2 separate regions of the Homo sapiens genome follow, and region 1 is linked to region 2. A link means that fine-mapping ties the variant in region 2 to the expression of a gene that starts in the linked region. Tissue or cell type: subcutaneous fat. Region 2 holds a variant in brackets; the other region holds the start of a gene. All regions are shown on one strand. Distances are between the middles of the regions.

Evidence for each region. PIP is the estimated chance that this variant, and not a neighbour inherited with it, causes the effect.
Region 1: FUT8 starts here. The variant in region 2 is fine-mapped to the expression of FUT8 in subcutaneous fat (GTEx, PIP 0.96).

What each region holds. Positions count from the first base shown.
Region 1 is chr14:65,409,063-65,417,240 of GRCh38, forward strand. It overlaps FUT8 (fucosyltransferase 8), which reads left to right and starts at 3,668. Exons shown (of 11, transcript NM_001371533.1): 1 at 3,668-4,152. FUT8-AS1 (FUT8 antisense RNA 1) reads right to left here and starts at 3,555. Exons shown (of 1, transcript NR_024334.1): 1 at 1,530-3,555. RefSeq lists enhancers at 2,847-3,166, 4,409-4,973 and silencers at 3,707-3,866, 4,167-4,286, 4,297-4,486.
Region 2 is chr14:65,165,134-65,173,311 of GRCh38, forward strand. No RefSeq gene overlaps it. Among named protein-coding and RNA genes, the nearest start is that of LINC02324, 53 kb to the right of the region's middle. RefSeq lists enhancers at 4,114-4,213, 5,777-5,836, 5,857-6,026. The variant G/A (reference allele first, on the strand shown) is at 3,944.

The DNA of each region.
Region 1 (8,178 bases), 240 kb after region 2:
TAAAACTTACCTAGTCCAACCCTTTTATTTTACAAATGAGAAAACTGAGGCCCAGATGGGTAAAATGATTATCTCAAGGTCACCCCTTCTTGCTCTTGGCAATAACAATGCTGCCCTTTGGATGACTTCCTGGAAAATCGGATCCTGTAAGTGAAATGTAGCTAGAGCAACAATTATAAAACAACGAGAACAATTAACAATTATTCAGAATGCTTCCATGGCTGACAGTCAGTTGGTACACGTTGGTAGAGATAGAAAAATTTCTAAACTATTTGGTAAGTAGCTTATGCTAAGCCTTCTGAGTGCCTCAACCCCTTGCTGGAACTCCACAGATCTCCCCACCGTAATAACAGGATCCACCTCAAAGGTTTGATTTGAGAATTAAATGGTGGAGGTAAAGAGTTTTGCATGAGGCCTGGTGCTCAGCACTATTACACTTTGGCTATTATTTTTATTACAGTCATAATAAAATGGTAGTAAATTTCAAACCAGTTTCTACATGAATGTTCACAACTTAGGAAATGTGATAGCATTCACGTTCATTAACTTTGATCTAGCTAATCTCTCAATAAAATGGCCACTCATGTACTCACTTTAACTTTCATTTTGATCTTTTCCATAGTCTAAGGGTTGACTCCTTCTTGCCCCGGGACACCCGAGTCCCCATAGCTCTAGCTGATGGTTAAGAATTTGACCGAGGCTATATACAAGAAAACAATGCACTGACAAGGCCCTGTTACTTGTTGTATAACAGATCATAACGATTGTTCTGTCTAATCTTTTGTTGAACAGAACTTGTCTTTAACTTTTGGGATAAGCAAAGATGGGTCCAAAACCTAGTTTGGTGAGGGAGGGGTGGAGTAAGAGGTGGAGTACCTGTACTTACTTAAGCAACTATTACAAACTGGCAGTGATGAGCAGCAGAGGCAAGCAGTTGGGAGAAGAGAATGAGAGAGCGCAGCAACAGGGTGGGACCTGCAGCTTGTGGAAAAATGCTTTTGACACAGATACTTTCTGATGGCCAGTGATGTTTAGAACCTTTTGGGGGATTCCTTCTCTCTCAGAATTTAACCTGGCAAGAGAACGACTGAGTTCTAGGAATTTTCTTGTCTGGAGAGAGTAAAATAAATGTATTTTTTAAAAGCTGGGACTGTTATCCACACTGAGAAGAGGCAGGGTATAAAATTCCCTTTCATAAGTGAATTTCCTGGAAATTCATGATTGGCTTGGAACTTAATGTGTAAAGACTTGTTCTCAAATATCAGTTGTTTGACAGAGACCTCCAGTTTTGGGATGGCAGCTAAATCCTGAGCCTGCCTTGGAAAGGGTTTTGATAATAATGTTCCATCACAGGTGGAGAAGCACATTGATTCAACAAAGCAGACTTCAAAACCACTGAAGAATTAGTTTCTGAGTGTATTCAAGAGATACCAAAGTTATTTGTTATTTTAACGTATATTATACTGTTCTATACAAATGCACCAAATCCTGGGCAAAACATTCCTAGGACAGGTTTTTTTTTTTTTTTTTTTCAGTTGGAAGGAGGTAGGGAAAATAAGTGCTTTAATTCCTAGGATTTTGGAAGTAAAAATGGAACACCAGACAAAAATGGAATTTTTAGGCAAATGTAAAGCTTTGTACTTGGGTATCTCAAAGTATTATACAGTGTAAACTATCATGATTATTAACCAACTAGAAGTAGTTCTTTTTTTTAAATTTTATTTTTAATTTTAGACATGAGGGTCTTGCTATGTTGCCCAGGCTGAAGTGGCTACTGACAGGCACGATGTGGCACTGCAGCCTGGAACTCTTGGGCTTAAGTGATCCTTCCTGCTTCTTCTATCTTAAAAAAAAAAAGTTACGCTTGCTTGTTAAAATATTTTTAAAATGCTGTGTTTAAACTAAGAAGTAAATATCCACCCCACCTCTGACTTCTAAAAATTATCTAAAGTATGACTGGTAAGATTTTTACCTTTAATCCCACATAAGTCTAAAATTTGTGTTCATTTCCAACAACCAAAGTGTGTCACTTTTATACCAGAATTTTGTCCTGCTTATACGTTTAGTACAGAAATCTCATGGGAGAGAGCATCCATGCATTTACAAATTGTTATTGAATTATTTTATTGAATGATGACACCCAAACTGAGCTAGAACATAATTCTGGCTCTGCTAGTACATCTTCTGTGTGATCTTGGACAAGTCACTCTACTTTCCTTTCAATTTTCTTTTCTCACAGGGAGATAATCATAAAAACGACTGTAAAGTACAGCACTTCATAGAGTGCTTTTTGTTTAAAGAGCTGACAATAAATACGAGTCTCAAGGTCTAGGAAAGCCTCCCTCACAACCTGAGCTGCTTGAGGACAAGGGATTTTCTTTTGAATCAGCAGTACCTTATTTGTGTATCTGTGATAGAGTTCCTGGTACATAAGAAGGTCTCAATAAATATGTGAATTTATGAATATTAGGCAGATTGCAACCTTGACAGGCCACTGCCTCTTAAATCTCCTTTCTGTGATCTTTTAATATTTAACATCTAAAAGGCCGCCGCTACTTGCTTTGGGATAAGTATCCCCGGTATGTACTTTAAAATGCCCAAGCCTAGAGAAATGATTCTTGTCTTAAGGGCACCATTTCGCTCTCCCACCGTAAAGCGCCCCAGGCTTGGGATCTGGGTCCCAAGGCTACAGGGAAGAGTTTGGAACGGGAAGCTCATCTTCCGGCCCTCTGATTGGCCGGCTCGCACTCCACTCACGCGGCGCGCAGCTCTGATTGGCCTCGGCGGCACCCCTCGTCCCGCGACTACTTTGTGTGCTGGGGCGGCGCGCTCCGGTCCTCCCGCTCAGCTGGCGGTCTGGGCTGCTCTGGGGCAGCCCTTCGGTCCACTGCTCTGCATCGCGGGCGCCGGGAATTTTCCGAGTCCGAGCGGGTAGGACGCATCCTAGGGCAAAGCCTCTCCCCTCTCCCCGTGCTGTTCTCTTTCCCGTACTAAATAAACTTCCGCCTCAGAGGGGCTGTCGCAGCCGCGGGTCGGGAGAGGCCGGGCATCGAACTCAGGCCCTCGTGGGGGGGGTCTTTCTCTTCGAGTGAATGTGGAAACAGCTCTTACAAGATAAAGTAGGGCTTCGCTGAGTCTCCTGGGGGAGCGATGCCATTGTAGGATCGCGCTGGAAGCAGCAGTCAAGCGGCCAAATGCGGGCTGCAGGGGCTGAGCAGCAGCAGCGCGCACCCCTAAAAGTAGCAAGGAGCCAGCTTCAAAACCTCTAGTGCGGGTGCCCCCTAGGGCCGCCGACTGAGCTGGCACGGGCCGGTCCATTCCCGGCGCTGTAGGGAGCACAGCATTCTCTGGAGGCGAGTCTCCTCCCGGGATCCAGGATCCGCTCGCGCCCCGCTCAGCCTCCGGCCTTCAGGCGGTAGAGGGCGGCCTACGCCTGTGTGCGAGCCGGAGCCGGCGTGCGCAGCCGCTGCCCTGCTGGAACTGTGCCGTCCCGCTGTGGCCCGCGGCTCTGCTAGGCGGTGGATGCTGCTGCTACGCTCTCCACCGGCGCAGCGAGGAAGGGGGCGGGGAGAATCCCTGGCACATGCCAGGGTCGCCGTAGGTGGCAGCGGCCGGCGCATGCGCGCCCTCTCCCAGAAGCCAGGAACGCCGAGGGGCGCGCTCCCCCATTCGCGCGCGCACGCCGGCGCTGGCCGAGGCTTCCCCGCCTGCGCTCGTTGTCAGAGCCGCTCCGGCGCGTGCGCGCGTTATCTCCGGCCGACCCGAGCAGCCGGTTCCCTCCTCTCCAGGCCCCCTCCCCATCCCACCCCCGCCGCCTGGCCCCAGCCGACCCGTCCCTTCGTCTCCCCGCGGAATGGGGCCGGCACTGCTCAGGGTCGCGCGCCCTGGACCCAGCTCGCTCTCGGTCTCGCGCTGTCAGCGACTGCCCGGCTCGCGCCGCCTCGCGCTCTGCCTCAGTCAGTGGCGCCGAAGGCTCCGTTAAGCGGCGGCGGCGGTTCCTGTTTCCGTTTCTTCCTCTCCGTTCGGTCGGGAGTAGCATCCTCCACTCAGCCACCCTTCCCACTCCCCCATCGTGGGGCAGCTGCGGCTGAGGGCTGTGGCTTTGGCAGCTGCGACGGGGAGCGGCGGAGACCGCCTCTGCTCCCGCCTGGGGTAAGGGGGCGTTTTGGGAGCCGGGCCCCGCGCGCCTCGGGGTCTTGGGCTGGGCTGCGCGCGGGATCTGAGGAGGCTCCGCGGCTGTCCCTGCTCGTTCACCCGGGCCTGTTGCTGCAACTGCTGCCGGTTAACCAGCGGCTCTCGGAAAAGTGGGGAGGGAGCCCCCGGGACGCTCTGGCGGATGCCTTGGCGCAGCCCCGGGGGCGCGGGCAGAGGGTGAGGGGCGCCCGCCTCTCCAGCCGGGACGCGGAGCTGCGCCGCTGCTGCCCTCGGCGTCGCGCATCCTTGCCTAGGGCAGGGGCCAAAGCCTAGGGAAGGAGAAGGGTTGGGGGCGGGGGTGGGAGGTGTCCGTCGTTTCCCCTCCACACCTACCTTCCCTTCGTCAGCAGCTCGGTCCCTGGAGTCGCGGTTTGTGGGGAGGAAGATGCCCGTGCGTTATGGGCTCTTTCTGAGTGCTGCTCGGGCTAGAAAGCAGGGAGTGGACCCTCACAAAGATCCGCGAGGGACTGATGCAGGGCAGTTAAAGGCTTGAGTGCAGCTGTACTCCCTTTTGATGTGCAAATGACGAGCTGGCGGCTTTTGAGTATCAACTTATTTGGGAAGGTTAAATGAGTCCATATTTATCAGTTCTAGGAGGTTTGTCCTGCAGGATTGAGTGGGTTGTCGGGTGCAGCACCTGTTCTTTCTTCACAGTGGGGATTGCAATCTTCAGAGACGCAGTGTATTTCTTAAGTGGCAGTGTCATGCTTAGGGTTTGTCCCGGATGAGCTTTTATTTTAGCATTTTGCCATATAATATATAGATTGAGGCCTTGGTTAAAGGCACGGACAGGTGGTGTTTTTTTCCTTCCTATGTTTTAATTATTCACAGTTTATTTAAACCCACTCAGGAAGGTGGACCCAGAAAAGCCAAATTCTGTAGTACATAACCCCAAATTTCAAGGTTTTGCGGAACAAATTCAACACAAGTTTTGTGTCAGTTTAGAGTTAAACGCATCTCAAGTAACTGACTTAACTGGCTTGCCTCTATGAAAACTGTAGGCAGGTTTCATTATAGATTTTTTTTTTCTTGTTATTCCGGCGGTTAGGTGCATGTTTATTTTCTTGATTAAATTTACATTCTATGTTTTATGACTAATTCTTTAAATAGGTGCATCATATAGAAAGTATTTTAGGAGAGAAATTATTATTTAAGCACTACAGTATATCAGATATATGAGAAATAATGGAGTTGTAGTCTCTGCTCTTTAAAATAACTGTAAAAACATCTTAAAACCCTATGCCAAATAATAAGGCCCTGTACCTTGCTGTCCTTGTGAAATCTGGTATGTGTATAGAAAATCTTAATTACTTGATTTGTAAATACTACAGTAGTATTGAAAAGGTGGGAATTCAAGCATTTGTAATTGTGATTTCACAGGTTTAGTGTGTAAAAAATGCAGGGAGTTAGAGATGAATAGGCTATAAGACACGTACAAAGGTAGTTCCAAGACATGGATTTTCTTTTTGCTGCCTTATAAATTGAGAATTCTATTTGAATTCAAGAGCTGAACAGCTGGAATGAAACTTGCATAGATTGCAGAAACAGATGCAAAAATGTATCTTTGGTCAAGTTGTGAGTTAACTTGAAGAGTGTCTTGTGTAATAGGATAGTGATTCAAAATAATTTCCATAAAGTACGGCCTTATATAGGTTATATTTTGAGGATATTTTTGAATTTAAAAAGTCACCTGAAGTTGTTTTCCTACAAATCAGTTCTGTTTAAGATGTATGGAATCGAAAAAAACAAAACAAAACTAATTCTGATTACATCCTGCATTGTTTTGTTGCAAATTCTTACCAGTTATTTTTACGCAATTGGAGTGTCCTTAAAAGTGGTGAATCTTAAAATTTGCCAGTGGATTGGAAAAAACTGTTAACTTATTATTTTTAAAAATGCTGTTATATTAGTACATTGGTCTGGAGGGGGAGCTAGTGCCAAAGCAAAGTATAGCTTAATAGCTGTTTGAACTTTTAAAACACCCAAAACCAGATTTTTATGACCAAAAGAAACATAAATTTTTAATTAAAAGAGTAGGAAATTGATGTGGGCATATATATGTACATAGTTATTTGTGGAGTGAATATATTGTGTATTACAAATTAGTTTAAAAAAGTCTTTTCATGCGCTGCAATAATGGAAAGCTAAATGCTTAAAGATTTATTGGATTTCTCACTTAAAAATCTCTAAAATGTACCCCCAAACTTAGAGTATGTTATAGTATTTTCTTAACCTTCTTGTCCTGTTCATCAGAATCTAAGGCATGTATTCTTGACCCATTGTACATGTTGTGTGTTCTTAAATTTTGTTTTTATAATAGCTACAATCCTAAAATTTCAAAAACGAAGCTTCAAGTAGAATCTTATATGGGCGAAGGTATTAATTGTGTGGTAAGCTAGGTATTTATCAAAAGTAGATATAATTCCTTTTTTTTTTTTTTTTAAAGTAGAGATAATTCCAATAAAAAAATGGACCTTTTAGACATCTGGAGAACAATATCCCCAGGTCACTTAACCCTTATCTCCTGCAGTATAATGCAGTGCGTCCAGCTGATCTACCAAATTGAATGTGTGCCTTTGAATACGAAGCAGTTGTTTTGTGGCCTGTGGCATTTCATTTAGGTTTCTAAGCTGTAATAAATTAGTATGTTAATTTACTTCTTTCCATTCACATATTCTTTAAATCCAAGCCTAGAAACTGATAGTTATATGTATATTAAAATCATTGGAATATTGGTTTTTTTGCAGATAGTGTTTGGGCTGTTTATTATCCATAGCTCTTCATTATGTAAATAGAATCTCAATGCTGATAAAGTAAATAGATTCTTCCATTTCATTAATGGTTATTTTTGATTTATGATAAACTGCATTTAATAAATCTCTTGATTTAGTTAAATGGTGGATACATCATTTCATATTATAGCAAATTGATAAATATAAAAGAAAGTTTTACAATCATAAGAGTAAATATTTAAAAAAACTTGAATAAGTTACTTTACTAAACATAAAATTAAGATTTTTAAACAACTCTGAAACTAAAAGTATTACTATTATGGTACCTTTTTTTTTTTTTCCCCCAAAGAGATGTGATCTTGCTGTTTTGTCCAGGTTGGCCTTGAACTCCTGGGCTCAAGCAATCCTCCTACCTCAGTCTCTTGAGTAGCTGGGACTATAGGCATGTGCTACCACAGCCAGCTTTATTATAGTACTTTTGTACCCTGCATCAATGCTGCTTCTGTTGATACTTTTCAAAGGAGATATCAACTTCTGGTCTTCAACAGTAGTGTAGCATCCTCTTATTGATTCTCTGGCTCATATTTCACTACCGTATAGTATGGAGTTTCTTTCTTGGAGTTTGAATTGTTTTTACATTGCAGCTTGTTATAGTGAAACAATTAAACATATTTAAAAGTAAAAGATATTTACGACTGATTTTTAAAGAACCTGTAAAAAAATCTCCAACAGAAGAATATTATATGGGGATGTGTAGATTTAACATTTTATTTTCTTTAATTTTTTTTTTTTTTTTTTTGAGATTGGGGTTGGGGGTTGTCTCTCTATGTTGCCCAGGTTGGAGTGCAGTAGTGGCGTGATCACGGCTCACTGCAGCCTTGAACTCCCTGGTTCAAGCCATTCTCCCGCCTTAGCCTCTGGAGTATCTGGGATTATGGGTGCATGCCACCATGCGTGGCTAATTATTTTTTAATATTTGTAGAGATGAGACCTTGGTATGTTGCCCAGGTTTGTCTTGAACTCCTGGGGTCAAGTGGTCCTCACACCTTGGCCTCCTAAAATGCTGGGATTACAGGCGTGAGTCACTGTACCCGGCTCCTTTATTTTATTAAAAAGATTTTTGTTTGTTTGTTTGTTTCTAAGTTTAAAAGAGACAGGGTCTTGCCATGTTGCCCAGGCTGGTCTTGAACTCCTGACCTCAAGTGATCATCCCACCTTGGCCTCCCACAGGCGTGAGCTACCATGCTTGGTT
Region 2 (8,178 bases):
ATCCCAGCACTTTGGGAGGCCGAGGCGGGCGGATCATGAGGTCAGGAGATCGAGACCAGCCTGGCTAACATGGTGAAACCGGGTCTCTACTAAAAATACAGAAAAATTAGCTGGGCGTGGTGGCAGATGCCTGTAGTCCCAGCTACTCGGGAGGCTGAGGCAGGAGCCTCAGGCGTGAACCCAGGAGGCGGAGCTTGCAGTGAGCTGAGATTGCACCACTGTACTCCAGCCTGGGCGACAGAGCGAGACTCTGTCTCAAAAAAAAAAAAAAAGAAATTCCTTCTTGAAATCCTGTTTATGCTATTAATTTATTTAGTGGCCAGGTGCAGTGGCGGCGGCTCATGCCTGTAATCCCAGCACTTTGGGAGGCCGAGGTGGGTGGATCACCTGAGGTCAGGAGTTCAAGGCCAGCCTGGCCAACATGGTGAAACCCCATCTCTACAAAAATACAAAAATTAGCTGGGCATGATGGCAGGTGCCTGTAATCTCAGCTACTTGGGAGGCTGAGGCAGGAGAATCACTTGAAGCCGGGAGGTGGAGGTTGCAGTGAGCTGAGATCGCACCATTGCATTCCAGCCTAGGTGGCAGAGCAAGACTCCATCTCAAAAAAAAAAAAAAAATTGTTACTAACTCATTTTTCTTAAAGAGCTGACAGTTAACTTCAGCCAAGTGCTACCCAGGGCTCATGATCTGAATCTGAGTGCTCAAAATCAAGTAGGTTTATGGTCCTGAGCATGTTAAAGCCAGCATGTTTAATAGGAGTTTAATAGGAGAGGAGTAGTAGAGATTCTGGTTCTGTTTGAGGCAGGAAGTTCACATGTAGGGCTGATATTGTCAGATTTTCTGATTTTCCAAAAGAAGCATGAAGTCCAGATTTTTTATGTGAAATATCTCACTTGATAAATCTTAACTAATTTATATTGTGTAAAAAAAGACCACAGGGACCAGATAAAACATGTTTGTAGGACACATTGCTCTGTGGCTACTAGTTAGTAACCCCTGAAAAAGCCTTAAGGTAGGATGAGGCAGGGCAGGGCAGCGTAGTTGTGGCACATGGTTTGTGTTCCCAGGGGCAACAAGAGTAATTCCATTTCAGTTTGGAGATCCTTGTCTAAAGCCAGTACATTTTGCTCAATTGATCATTATTTTTCTTTGGCTGAGTTAAGTAGCATTCTTCGCTCTTTCGCTAAAGGATCAATTCCTTGTCTCAGGAGCATTTGAAGCTTCTGGATGAGGATTAGAATGATTGAAATCTATCTGTGACCCTGTGGAGTGACTCCAGGCAAGTCTCAGATGCCTCTAACCCTCTCCATCCAAAATGCCCAATGCAGCTAGGTTTCTTTTAAGATCAGCAATGATTATTGTTTTTCTCTCTATGCAGAAACTTGCTTCAAGAAGGAGTCTCTACCTTTTAAGTGCCAGGCTAGGAGCCTCTTTATTGGACCACATTAGATCTTCCCTACAGCCCAATTTTGAATTATTATTTTTATTGCTTTCTTATTCTTTAACACTCAAAAATCTTTGGAAACATAAAAGCCTGTGATGTAGTTCATGTTGTGAGTTAAGGGAGGTACAAGAAGTGTGTCATTTCAGGTCCTCTGAGAAACACATGCCAAGATGGAATTAGGCAGAGCATAAATGCACGGGGGAGAATGTATGTGAAGGATATAGGGTGTGGGAGCAGGAGTGGTGAGGACAGCCCTCAGGCAGCAGTGCAGGCCTGGCACTTGCTGAAGGAGAGTGGAAAGGAAAGAGAGTTGGGTAGGAAGAATCTAGACTACAGCATAGCTCCAAGAAAGCCACAGCCAGGCTTATGGGAAGCCCAAGAACAGAGGAGTTGCCACTGGACAGGACTGGCCTGGCTGTAGTACATCTGTTGTGCCCAGGGAGGGGGAGGCCTCAGTGTGAAGGCTGCAGGGAGCCCAAAGGATCCATAGTGTAAGGCTGTCATCCTGCTACTCCTGGTAGCAGGTTCTCTCAAAGGGAGATCAAAGTGAGGTAGGAGGTGAGACTTTACTTTGAAGGCAGGGTTCAGATACTGGACCAAATTGGGGACTAACTAAAACAAGTCCAGGGCAGAAGCACCACCCCATAAGACACGCCCATCACTGTGCCCTGTCAGTTTACCATTACCATGGCAACACCCAGAAGTTCCCACCCCTTTCTGTGGCAATGACTTGACAACCTAGAAGTTACCACCTCTTTTCTAGAAATTTCTGCATAAACCACCCCTTAATTTGCATACAATTCAGAGCAGGCATAAAAATGAGTGCAGAACTTCCTCTGAGCTGTTACTCTGGGCCCACTGCCTATAGGGTAGCCCTGTTCTGCAAGGAGCAGTACCTCTGCTGCTCCTGTGCACTGGGCGCTTTCATCAAAGGCTGTTCAACACCATTGGCTTGCCCTTGAATTTTCTCCTCGGCAAAGCCAAGAACCTTCCTGGGCTAAGCCCCAATTTGGAGGTTCATCTGTCCTGCATCAAAAGGTGCTTTCTTGTGACCACCACAATCAGCAGGAAGGTTTTCGTGATTTCATAAATATGTGGTTATTTTTACTTATTTTTATACAATAAGAGGGAGGAGATTGTGGGGGTTCAAAGTTAGTCCTGGCTTTGTGGCTCCATCACTGTGCTGGCTGTGACCTTAGGCAAGGAGCTAAATTTCCTTATCCCTTTTGTTTATTTACTCGTTTATTTTTGTTTGTTTATTCGTTTGTTTTTTTAAGAGTCTTGCTTTGTCACCCAGGCTGGAGTGCGGTGGTGTGATCTCGACTCACTGGAACTTCTGCCTCCCAGGTTCAAGTGATTCTTGTGCCTCAGCCTCCCGAGTAGCTGGGATTACAGGCACCCATCACCACTCTTGTCTGTTAATTGAAAACAGTGAAAGTATCTCTCCCATGGAATTACTTTGAGAGTTTTGATAGAAGGTATGCAAAGTGCTTAGCACAGTGCCAGGTACCTAGCAAGTATTTTTACTTTGGAATATATTATAAGATGAGATCTAGGCTAACTATCCACTGATGATTACTTTGATTTTAGAGGGTCTTGTTTTTTGAAATGATATTGTTAAGGTGAGTCTGGTCAGTAGGCAAACTGAAATGCATGTATGGACAATGACCCCCAGCTCAGCCTGAGTCCCCCAGCAGCACTCTCCCACCAACCCTGTGAGGTAGGTTTTATTATGTTTAGTTTACAGATGAGCAAACTGAGGCCCAGAAAGATCTTGGTGATTTTGTGGAGCAAGTCATTCAGGAATGACCAGAGTATTGCATTGCATCCCCTTAGTTAATGATGGGCAGGTGACCCAGTAAGAACCAAGGAGATGTGGTGAGACTGCCCAGGGTAGCTGCGAAGATGTTGAGCTCTTTTACTAATGGTCTTGGACCAGGGAGAATGTGAGGCTGGTGATGCTGAAGCTGTCTTACCTGCACAAAGGTAAGCCTCTCTGAGAATGTGGCAGAGGCAGAAATATTTGGCCTTGAATGAGTGAATCTAATAGCCATCCAAACCCTTTCTCCTATAACTGCTCTTTTTTATTTTTTAATTTATTTTTGTTTTATTTTATTTTTAAAAAATGTTTGTGGGTATATAGTAGGTGTATATATTTATGGGGTAGATAAGATGTTTTGATACAGGCATGCAATGTGAAGTGAGCACATCATGGAGCTCTAACTACACCTGAGGAGATTGCTAGTTGTTTCAAAATACCCCTCTTCTTCATCATGTGACTAACAGAACTCCTCAAGTTTTAGCTGGGCACATGGCTACCCAAGTACTACATTTCCCAGCCACCCTTACAGCTGGTTGTGATCATGTGGTTATGTTCTGACCAATAGCATATGGGCAGAAGAGAAGTGATGAATGCAACTTATGCATTGCATCCTTAAAAGAAAGCTTCTTGCCCTTCTCTTATACCTTCTCCCTTCTTGGCTAGGATATGACAAC[G/A]GAGTGACTGGTCAGACTGCAAGGAAGAGGCAGAACCCTTTCACAATCTTGGGTACGGTTTGTTCTTTGACTGTTATATGAGGCAAAACCAAACCAAACAAAAAACACTGCTTCTACTGCAGGGACCAAAAAAGCTTAAAAACGTACTTTCCCAGCCTCCTCTGTGGCTAAAGTGGCCTCATGGCACTGATGTATTCAATCAACTGGAAGCAGAGGTCAGCTGGGAACTTTGGGGATTGATTTACTTTTCTGGATAAAAAAAAAAAAAATCGGAAGTTAGCTAGCCTCTTCTTTCTGCCTTGAATGTCTAGAGCTGGACCTGTCCTCCTGTGACCCTGAAGACAGTAGAGCTGAAATGAAGAAGGAGGCTGGGTTCTTGATGACATTACTGAGCTGCTGCATAGTAACGTCATCTATGCCTATTCTGGGCTGCTTGTTGAATGAGAAAAATAAACCTCTCTCTGGACTTCTTATGTGAGAAAAACAAACCACACTTTGTTGAAGCCTCTGTTAGCTGAGTTTCATGTTATTGCAGCCCAAATGCCCAAATATCAGTGAAACTTAGTGGTGTGTCAGACAGCCCAGATGTTGATGATGTCATCTGGCCTTCTGAATACAACTGTGCCTGAGACTAAACCCAAGCCCCTGGACTTTTCAGCTATTAGAGAAAGAGTAAGTTCTCTTTCTGCTTAAGCAGTTTAGGCTGGATTTTCTGTGGCCTGGATGGAAAGACCCCTGATACAACTATGAACCAATAGCAACTAGATACATTCTGTTTTCACCTCCTCTTAGTCTCTCCCCTGATTTTACGGTTAAAAAAAAAAAAAAAAAAAGTAAAATTAGAGCAAGGAAAGAAAGAAGAAAGGAATAAAGAAGGAAGGATAAGATAAGAAACAATAGAAGACTTGAACTAAATTAAAAGAGGTTAGAGGCCAGGCACGGTGGCTCATGTCTGTAATCCCAGCACTTTGGGAGGTCGAGGCAGGTGAATCACGAGGTCGGGAGATCGAGACCATCCTGGCTAACACGGTGAAACCCCGTCTCTACTAAAAAAAAAAAAACAACACACAAAGAAATTAGCCGGGCATGGTGGTGGGCGCCTGTAGTCCCAGCTGCTCGGGAGGCTGAGGCAGGAGAATGGCATGAACCTGGGAGGTGGAGCTTGCAATGGGCCGAGATCACACCACTGCACTCCAGCCTGGGCAACAGAGCGAGACTCTGTCTCAAAAAAAAAACAACAACAACAACAACAAAAAAAAAAACAAAAGGTTAGAAGCTTTTACAGTTCCTTTGTTTGGAAACCTGGGTCCTAGTGTCCCTTGCGCAGGATGCTCGTTTCTGACTTTTGTGGCCTGCCCTTGACACCATTCGAGCATATGGATTTCAGTGGGTAGTGTGACTCAGCTTCCCATTCCCAAAACTCCAGAGCCACATTGCTGGGTCCCTTCACTCTGCTTTACTCTCCTCCCAAGACAGACGTAGCATGGGCCACGTGAATTCATCCATGTCCTGAACTAATCTGGTTGTTCTACCAGGTTACTCTTAAGTTCATGGGCCATCACCCCCTTGTACTTACTGAGCTCCAGGGTTTTCATCTCTTCTGAGAATCGACCGTTTAGTCCAATCTTAGTACAGACCAGCATTAATAGGCAATTACCACAGGGAGATAATACAGAGGGAAAAATGGCTAAAAATATACAGTGAATCACAGAAAATTACATCTCTTAAAACCTACAGTGTATTCCTATTGCCATAGCAACCCTTGGCTAGTAAAGACAGAGATGATTTATCACAGGCTTTCCCCGGAGCTCGGTTCTGCCGGAAGCACCTCCAGCCTGTGGTGAGTTCCAGCGAGGAGGGCAATGCAGACATCATACAACCGGGTTTTCTCTCCTCCATCCCTTCCAGTGGCATTTCTGCGGCAAGAAGACTTGAGTTCCTTCTATATAACCCAGGTCATCTCCCGGCCCCTTTTCTGAGATGAAAGTGGCTGTCTCTAACCTCTGACAACGCGGCGTCCTGCCGACACGATGTGAATGCCAGCGGCAGCAGTGCGCTGACTTCCAGGAGGGGGCAGTGGGGCTGGGGGACATGAGGAGGCTGTAGGTGCCAGACCGTCTGAACAAATGAGGAGAGGAGAGGAGTTCTTTCTCCTCCTGTTCCTTTTCCTCCCTACTTCTCTCTCACCTTCCCACTTCCCTGACTCTCCTCTCTACCCTGCTACTTCCTCAGTAGGTCTACTGTGAAATGGACTGGACATACATCAGGACCGGGAGAAGAGAGAGGAAGTCATGTCCTCACTTAGGAAATGAGTCTGGTCTTTAGGAAGATTATAAAATGTATGTAAATAAACATCTTGTTATTTCGTTGGAACTCTAAAATTCACTGGCATAGATGCTGTGCTTTCTCATAATGTTAAAAATTAGATTCTTGAATGCTGTTTAAACATTCATAATTTGGAGAAATAGCCTGGACCAGAGTTTTGGAGAATCCACCTTCAAAAATAACCCTAGCTGGGGGGCAGTAACATGCACCTGTAGTCCCAGCTAGTCAGGAGGCTGAGGTGGGAGGATTGCTTGAACCCAAGAGTTTGAGGCTGCAGTGAGCCATGATCACCTCTGTAAATAGCCACTCTGCACTCCAGCCTGTGCTATGTAGTAAAAGATACCCTGTTTCAATAAAAAAAAAAAAAAAAAGAAGAAGAAGAAGAAGAAGCTGGAAGGAGCTCCCATTCAAATCTTGGACAATCTGAACTTTTAAAAAATAATAATAATAATCAACTGGGCACGGTGGCTCATGCCTGTAATCCCAGCATTTTGGGAGGCCAAGGCGGGTGGATCACCTGAGGTCAGGAGTTCGAGACCAGCCTGGCCAACACGGTGAAACTCCATCTCTACTAAAAATACAAAAATTAGCTGGGCATGGTGGTGAGCACCTGTTTTCCCAGCTACTCGGGAGGCTGAGGCGGGAGAATTGCTTGAACCCAGGAAGCGGAGGCTGCAGTGAGCCGAGATCACACCACTGCACTCCAGTCTGGATGACAAAAGGGAGACTTCATCTAAAATAATAATAATAATAAATTGGATAAAATGTGAAAATCTAAGTCCATATTAATATAAGCAAATAAATAAATGGAGAAAAAGAAAAAGGCTTTCCTTAGAGTAAAATTACAACTAATATAGGTATAAGAAATGATAAAATTAGAAAATGACCATTTGGTAAACCTTAGAGTCATTAATGATTCAGGCAAGAATTATCAAGGGATGTTAAAACTAGTGGGTAAAAATTTGATGAGAAACAGTGTATTTACACAATCTCAAAGTAGATCCTCATAAAACACCTATTGATTTCAAAGAGAAAAATAATAACTTTACAGTAGAGAGGACTGATAATCCCCACCTGAATCAAATGATCAAAGTTAACATCGCAAGGGACAAATGGGACAGATTGATAGCATATATCTCCTGATGTATGTGTGCTGAAGGACATGATATCACCTCTGTGGTTTTCCTGCCAAAAAGGTACAACCGGAATCTAATTGTGAGGAAACATCAGACTAATTCAAAAGGAGGGACAGTCGATTAAATAAATGGCTTACATTCTTCAAAAATGTCAGTGTCATGAAAGACAAAGCTGAAGAACTATTCTAATTGAAGAAACCTAAAAAGACATGATATTGCTGGCCGGGCGCGGTGGCTCACGCCTGTAATCCCAGCACTTTGGGAGGCCGAGGTGGGCAGATTAAGAGGTCAGGAGATCGAGACATCCTGGCTAACACAGTGAAACCCCGTCTCTACTAAAAATACAAAAAAAAAAAAAAAAATTAGCGGGGCGTGGTGGCGGGCGCCTGTAGTCCCAGATACTCGGGAGACTGAGGCAGGAGAATGGCATGAACCCGGGAGGCAGAGCTTGAAGTGAGCCGAGATCGCGCCACTGCACTCCAGCCTGGGCGACAGAGTGAGACTCCGTCTCAAAAAAATAAAAAAAGGCCGGGCGCGGTGGCTCACACCTGTAATCCCAGCACTTTGGGAGGCCGAGGCGGGTGGCTTACGAGGTCAGGAGATCGAGACCATCCTGGCTAACACGGTGAAACCCCGTCTCTACTAAAAAAATACAAAAAATTAGCCGGGCTTAGTGGCGGGCGCCTGTAGTCCTAGCTACTTGGGAGGCTGAGGAAGGAGAATGGCGTGAACCCGGGAGGCGGAACTTGCAGCGAGCCAAGATCGCACCACTGC